Linked DNA regions of Homo sapiens. The protein of the gene in region 1 purifies or fractionates together with the protein of each later gene. This does not show direct contact. Each region holds a gene or a part of one and is shown in the gene's direction. Other genes may lie near its edges.

Region 1 (4,128 bases):
TGATTTCCTCTGGAACATTTTCTGGGGTGGGGTTTTTTGTTTTGTTTCTCAGGTAACCTATTTATGTTAGTGATCTTGTCAAGTGGAGGTAACTTGAAACAATTGTTTATTTATGTTTATTTACAGGGGTGGAGGTGGCTCACACCTGTAATCCCAGCAGTTTGGGAGGCCGAGTTGGGCGGATCGCTTGAGCCTGAGCAGCATGGCGTGGCCCCTTCTCTACAAAAAATACAAAAAACAAAACAAATCAAAAAAATTAGCCAGGCGCTGTGGCGAGTGCCTGTAGTCCCAGCTACTTACGAGGCTGAGGTGGGAGGATCATTTGAACCCGGGAGGCAGAGGTTGCAGTGAGCAGAGATGGTGCACTGTGCACACTCCAGCCCGGGTGACAGAGAAAGATCCTGTCTCAAAAAAATAAAAAATAAAAATAAAATTGTATCTTAGCAATTATCACCTAGCATTTTGATACGAAGTTGAGTGAAGCAATGGTTAACAATTAAAGAATTTATTGGCGCAATCTAAATATAGTACCAGGGATACTAGGAGCTAGAAATTATGTCTTAGTTTCTAACCTTGAGATTATTATTTAACTTTTTCTGTTTAAGCTTTTCCTGTAAAACTGGGATAGTCACACGCTTCAAGAAGGCAAAGATGAATAAACGTTTGTCAAAGTTAATGGGCTTCAGAATTAATATTCTGTCAGTGTTGATGCTCAGTGCTTGTGTAACCCTTAGTTTTGCATTTACTTTAAAAAATGAATTAGTTTACATTCTATGTAATTTTTATGAGCAAAAGTTCAGTTTCTGGAGAATGTGGTGAAACCCACAGAAACAGGAGTTGCTTATGATCCGTAGTTTATAGATTTTTATTTTTGAGTGAGGTAGAAGATTAATAGATTTTTTGAATTCTGAGTAGCAGAATAGAAACGAAAGGCATTAAATGTTTTTCTTATTAACAGTGTTGTTTTGCTCATTCTGGAAATAAGCCACCTGCCCCCCCTTTGCTTATTTAAATGAGAATTTGCTTAAAGCTTAAGTGGGAGGAGGGAAGAGTAAGTAGAGGATGGGCATAGTAGAGCGCCCGTCATAAATTTTAAATTTTTTTATATATTTTATTTTATTTTTGAGAGATGGGGTCTTGCTACATTGCCCAGGTATGATCATAGCACACTACAACCTCAAACTCTTAGGCTCAAGTGATCCTCCTGTCTCAGCTTTCTTTTCTTTCTTTTTTTTTTTTTTTTTTTTTAAAAAAGATGTAGTTTAACTCTGTCACCCAGGCTGGTGTGCAATGGCGCAATCTGGGCTCACCACAACCTCCGCCTCTTGGGTTCAAGCAATTCTCCTGCCTCAGCCTCCTGAGTAGCTGGGATTACAGGCATGTGCCACCATGCCCGGCTAATTTTGTATTTTTACTAGAGACAGGGTTTCTCCTTGTTGGTCAGGCTGGTTCCGCCCCTCTTGGCCTCCCAAAGTGCTGGGATTACAGGCGTGAGCCACCACGCCCGGCCCTGTCTCAGCCTTCTAAGTAGCTGAGACCTCAGGCATACACCACCATGCCCAGCTCTTAAATTTCCTTGTATCTTTTCAAAGTTAGCTTTAATATGGGCAATATAACCAACTCATTTTCTTAAAATTGACTTAGAATAAGTATATAGAATAACCAGAAGTAATTTCTTGCATTTACTTGTTTTAGGATTATTACTGTATTTATTATACAAAAATTGGTTATAATTGGAACCTTTTAGACTAGTTAATTGTATTAGACTGGGCCAGTAGTCACTCATTCAACATTTCTATTGAACATCTACTGTATACAGGCTAGGCAAGGATGATCATGGTCCCTGGCTTCAAAGAGTTTATAGTCTCTGGAGGAAGGTAGACAGATAATCGTAGTAAACTATGATTTATATATTTTATCACTGAGGTGAGTACAGTAAAGAGGGAGGTTATTTGGGAGTTTTAAAAGAAACATTCCAACAGAGGAGTTGTTCTAAAGAGATTTTAAAATAATAGTTCGTTGGAAAAATTGGCCATTGTAATAGTTGATTTGTTGGAGTATGATATTTGCTGACAGCACTATATACTGGACTGGCCGACTGGTTGATTGTAACTGTTATTGACCATTGATCAGTAGTGATCTGGTGGCTGACAGTTGTTTTGAAGGGTTGAATTACAGTCGTGTGTGTATGTGTATACATACGTACATGTGTTTGTATATATATGTGTGTGTGTGTGTGTGTGTGTATATATATGCAAGGACCTAGGTTTAGATGTTACAGAGGATATAAGATACAGGAGACTCTAATAAAAAAATATGTTTGTGTGTATATATACATATATACGATGTGTGTGTGTATACATACATGTATACGGTGTGTGTGTGTGTATATATACATATATATGATGTGTGTGTGTATATATATATATATAATTTTCTTAGTTCATATAAGCAGGGCTTCTCAACTGGGCATAGTACTTTCCCTACCTCCAGTTCTCTCTTTGATGGCACTTAGAAATATGTGGGATCAGGTTTTTGGATGTTGCTATGACTAGGGATGTGGTACTGGCATTTAGTGCCCATGAGCTTCAATGCTAAGTTTTCTGAAGTGATCAGGACCGTCCCAACAAATGAAAGCGTAATTCCTCTAAGTACCCTTTTCAGAAACATTGAACAGAAAGAAAAATAGTATATCTAGAAGATTTTTTTTTTTAGTCCTTCTACTCTTTTCATATTGAGATAGTTAAGCTCCAGAAATATACTTTATTTGGAACAGGTCCAGGTAAATGATATTCAACAATATTTAAGTATAATTTATACTGACCATGAGAGGTCAAGAAACTTTCTACTTTCTTAGCAGAAATTACAAGCAATTGCATAAACAGTTAGTAAAACAACTTTTGCTAGGTTAAAGAGGGTAGCAAATTCAGCATAATTATCCTGATTAAAGAAAAGATTTGACATTTTGATATAATAAATTCTGTACTTTTAAGAAAGCATTTATATGCAAGGACCTAGGTTTAGATGTTATAGGAGATAAAAGATACGGGCAACTAGTGGGATATAAATTAGTAAGATAATATTTAAATATCACTTCAAAATGACAGCTGAAAAGATGTCAAAAGGCAGTGTATTAACTAACAAATTGTTTTGCTTTATTTTTATTTTTTTGAGACAGGGTCTCCACTCTGTCACCCAGGTGGGAGTGCAGTGACACAGTCACGGCTCACTGCATCCTTGACCAACTGGGCTTAAGCGATCCTCTTGCCTCAGCCTGAGTAGCTGGGACCACAGGTGCACATCAACATGCCTAACTTTAAAATTTTTTGTGGAGACAAGATCTCCCTACATTGCCCAGGTTGGTCTCAAACTCCTGTGCTCAAGCAGTCCTCCCACCTTGGTCTCCCAAAGTGCTGGGACTATAGGCGTGAGCCACTGCACCCAGCCTGGTTTTGCTTTTTTGTTGTTTGTTTTGTTTTGTTTTAAATTGAAAATGTACTAATTGAAATGGTTTTTTAAAATTCACCCTGAGAAAGGGCATACAATGAAAACTTGATCTTTTTCCCATTCTAGAGTTCCAGTCTCATTTCCACAAAGACAAATCCCCTAATGGTTTCCAGAACTAGTTTGCTCTTTTTAAGAAAATAAAGATAACTACACTGTATCTTGCTTTCCCTCCCCCCAAAAGCATCTTCTAGCTCATTCCATAGCTGCTCATGTAAGTTTTTGGCTTTCCCTATTATAGTATATAGTAATTCTAGTCTATGGCTGGGTCTAATTAATCAGTTCATTATCAGTGGATATTTAGGAGAGTAAGTTAATTTTATGTATAGCAACTTAAAGAGTTCAAAGTAGGTAGTAAGCACTTCAGGCTGGGGTATCAGGGAAGGCTTTCCTGAGGAGGTACTATTTGAGCTAGTCTTCATTACCTTTGTTAGCCATTATTGGTGCCTGATTGGTATAAGAAATAAAAACCAAATTAAAACTGTTAGAGCTACAGAATGTTTAGATTACATATTTAGGACATTTCTTTGTATATTTTATGTCTCATCAGTTTGATACAAGTTGATTCTTTTGTTTATATACATGTTACATTATAACTGCAAGATCTTTGAAACTAAGCATTTT
Region 2 (4,128 bases), on another chromosome or scaffold:
TAGCAAGTCATTTGTGGTGTGATATTTTGGCATTAGTAGTTGGTAGGAATTTACCTGCAGTAATCTGATAAACACAGTTGGGAGCAGTCGTTTAGGTATGGCTTTGGAAGTTAGGAAGAAGAAGAAGTGGAGACAATTCTGGAGGAAATACTAACCCATCTACTTTAGGGAACTTGGAATGCTTCTATGTGTTGGCATCAGAGCCTAGGGAGACTAGGAGAGAGGAGGCAGAAAGTAGATGTCAGAAAGCTTTGCCTTCTTTGAAAGTTTGCTTAGGACCATTTTAGCCATAGTAAGCTATGGTAAATAGAAAAGTTCTGAAGTAGTTTGATGTTGGAGGATTGCAAGTGCTTCAACTGGAACATCTGTCCAGTTAGGCTACTAATCCAGTCCTTTTTCATTCCAGTGTTCTATTAATCAGCATTGGCTCACTGAAATAGCAGTTTTCACAAATGAAAAGTCAACTGTAGTTTTAGGTGACAGGAAATTGGATATTTCTATTGACAACATACTTTGTTATTCCAAAAGCAAGTTTTGGAAGATGAGGAATACTTACGACATATTCACTAATTAAATATATAAATCCTGAATAGTTTTTTTCTTGCTTTAGAAAGGAATTAAAAACTTTGAATTTTCAGATTGCTTTAAATAGTGATTTAAATAATGACTTGATTTAATCAGTGCCTTATATCAAAAATTGTATGTTTAGAATTTTGATTTATTTCTCCAGAGCAATTTTAAGGATTCTCTTAACCCTCAGTATACGAGGAAAAGTGTACAATTATCACTATCATCTGGGTCAAAAGGGACTGGTTTTTTTTGCATTTTACGTTATTATGTATAATTTATAGGAGTAAAAATAAAGCATAATGTAAAACAACTTATTGGAGCTTTTAATAAGAATTTCAATACAGCAGATATCTTTGTATGTACTTAGAAAAATAAAAAATAAAAAATCTATTTCATGCATTTAATTACATAACACTCCTACAACAAATATACATCACATTTGAACGCTTTGCATAAACATTCTCATTGTAACACACATTTTTTTCTTTTTGAGTTTCTGTATCTGTACAAAGAACATCTTTCTTTCTTCCCATTTTCAGATCTGTGCAGAAATCATTGTGGTTAGAGGGTAAGACAACATTCCCTTCCTATTTTCTGCAAGTTATTTTCCTAGTTGCATGAGGAATTTCTTCTTGGTAACTTCCAGTTTTGTAACTGAAGCTTTTCCCGTACAATGAAAGTATACTCTGAACTAATATCAGTCATAAGCCATCTTCAAATCATTCTCTTCCAAGTATTGTTTCTGACCCACTTTTTGAATGTGTCACTTCTGTAGTCTTTTTGTAATACAGATCACTTCAGATTAATTTATGCAAGGATTTTAAAATTCATTGATGGTTGAGAATGCACTGAGCTGAGAAGAGTAGGTATAGTTTTCCTTAGGACAATAAGAATCATGAATTATATTCGAAATCCAGATTTTGTGCAGTTGACTTCTTTTGCTTTTCCATTTGTGAAAATTCACAGAAGTTCAATGCTGTTCTTCCTAACAGTGCCAACTAAGGAGAGTTTGATGCTGTGTGATATTCAGCCAAGTCTAAATTTGTAAAAAATTTGTCACAAGTTATATGTCTGACAGAATTTTGAAATTTTTCTGTCATTTCGTATATATCAATCTTGATTCTACTTTCATGCCTTTTCCCAATCTCTGTGTAGATCTGCATTGTCCAAGCTTATCATATTTCATTGTCACCTGTTGCTCAGATTTTCATTTCATGTTTTTCACCTTTTGAAGGTATTTCTACCTGAAATGGGCAACATCATCTGAATGGAATTAACTATAGATGCTCCTTGAATTACGATAGGTTACATCCTTGATAAACCCGTCATTAGTTGAAAGTATCATGAGTTGAAAATGCATTTAATACACCTAACATACTGAACATCGTAGCTTGGCTTAGCCTACCTCAAATATGCACAGAACATTTATATTAGTCTACAGTTGGGCAACATCATCTAACTCAAAGCTTATTTTTTAATAATAAAGTGTTGAGTATCTCATGTAATTTATTGAGTACTGTACTGAAAGTGAAAAACAGAATGGTTGTATGAGTACTGGAAGTAATGAATGCACTTTCACACCATTATAAAGTTGAAAATTGTTGTAAGTTGAACCATCTTAAGTTGGAGACTGTCTGTACTTAGCAACTTTCATACAAGACCCTGGAACTATTTGTCTTATAAATACTGATTCTAAATTTCAAATGCTTCCCTGATAGGTTCTTGCTTGTCATTCCTTCTGGGTTGTCTTTTTGCATGTACATCATCAAAATGCAATACTGGAAGAATTTTTGAAACCTTTGATGGTTCATAATTTTGTTGAAGACAGGACGGCCATCTTCTTTGCTCCACAATTGCAAGATTTTTCAATTTCAGATTTATGAGCAACTAACTAGAATGATCAATCCAATGAATTTTTTAAAATGTCTATATTTTCTATTTCCTTCCAGTCACCTTTGCATACCCCTGCATTCAATACTTGGGCACTTAAGCGTTGTATCAAGGCCGGGTGTGGTGGCTTATGCCTGTAATCCCAGCACTTTGGGAGGCCAAGGCAGGATTGCTTGAGCCTAGGAGTTTGAGACTAGCCTGGGCAACATAAGAAGACCTTGTCTCTACAAAAAATAAAAAATTAGCCGGGTGTAGTGGCATGTGCCTGTGGTCCCAGGTACTTGGGAGGCTGAGGTGGGAGGATCGCTTCAGGTCTGGGTTGCAGTGAGCTGCAATTGTGTCACTGCACTCCAGCCTGGGTGACAGAGTGAGACCCTGTCTCTTAAAAAAAAAAAAATGTATTAAGTAAAATTTTAGCACACACTTGTAAAGGATGAAAGACTGTCACATTTTCTTTGAGCAGAACAGCATGGTCCATATTCTTAATGTAAAAATATTGTGTGATGAAGTTCTTCCCACTGGATGAGAATGCCGTATTTCCTTTTTGTTTTTAGAAATACGTTATTCTCTCATTGATTAAGTTTGAGGGAATTTATCTAAAGTAACTCATCCAAGGACTCAGTCTGAGATTTCCCTTATAAAGTCATTTTCACTACCATCATTAAGAGTCTAAAGTGCTGCTGTCTATCTTTGTGTTAATCTTCTGGTTCGTCTAATAGTTGTGAAATGCCTTCCTCTGTTAATTTTCTTCTCTTCCATTTTGGGCAGAAAATGAAGTCTGAGTTCTTAATTGTATTCAGTGAAAACTAGAAACAGATGAAGGGGATCAGAATCTGCCACTTACGCATGAGGATTATTTTGAGTTGAAGGCAATTGAGAGTCAGTAGATGCTGGAAGAGTTCTGTGCCCTCCCCTTATTTGCCTAGTAGTAGCAGGGCATTAATTTCTATCTTTTTTCTTTTTTTTCTTTTTGAGACCGTGTCTTGCTCTTGTTGTCCAGGCTGGAATGCAATGGCGTGATCTCAGCTCACTGCAGCCTCCACTTCCCGGGTTCAAGTGATTCTCCTGCCTCAGCCTCCCGAGTAGCTGGAACTACAGGCGTGCGCCACCATGCCTGACTAATTTTGTATTTTTAGTAGAGACGGGGTTTTGCCATGTTGGCCAGGCTGGTCTCGAACTCCTGACCTCAGGTGACCCACCTCCCAAAGTGCTGGGATTACAGGCATGAGCCACCACGCCCAGCCAGTTTCCTTCTTATAACAGGGAGGGAAGAGCAACTCTTTTCCCTTGAGATTGAGAGTCAAGGCAGAGATGAGTTTGTATAAACAAATTTTACTAAAATAACCGTTATTTTCCATTAGTTCTCCCATTTTTTCTAGTCACTTTCCCATGGTTTATTGTCCCTGAAATTCCAAGTTCCCTTTTTTGGGGGGGTTAAAATAGTATAAAAGCCTCTACGTCTAACCACTTGTTTGAGTTTCACTTCTTTTCTGTGAACTCCTGTGCATGTCAATATTAATAAAAATTGTATGCTTCTTCTCTTGTGAATCTGTCTTTTCATAGTTTAATTCACAGGCCATGAGATACTGAACCAAAGGTGATAGAGGAATTGTTTTCCCTCTCTGACATAGACTACAAAAATGTCTTCAGTTTTCCATATGTCTTTGA

The links. Proteins that work in one complex are often made in the same cells at the same time.
Region 2: the proteins of ZNF292 (region 1) and ZNF280D purify together in Homo sapiens (affinity purification with mass spectrometry, with the first as the bait; one large-scale study listed by BioGRID). This does not show direct contact.

What each region holds. Positions count from the first base shown.
Region 1 is NC_000006.12:87,158,269-87,162,396, forward strand, and holds part of ZNF292 (zinc finger protein 292), read left to right. Parts: intron 1-4,128. UniProt on the Homo sapiens protein: May be involved in transcriptional regulation.
Region 2 is NC_000015.10:56,726,764-56,730,891, reverse strand, and holds part of ZNF280D (zinc finger protein 280D), read left to right. Parts: intron 1-4,128. UniProt on the Homo sapiens protein: May function as a transcription factor.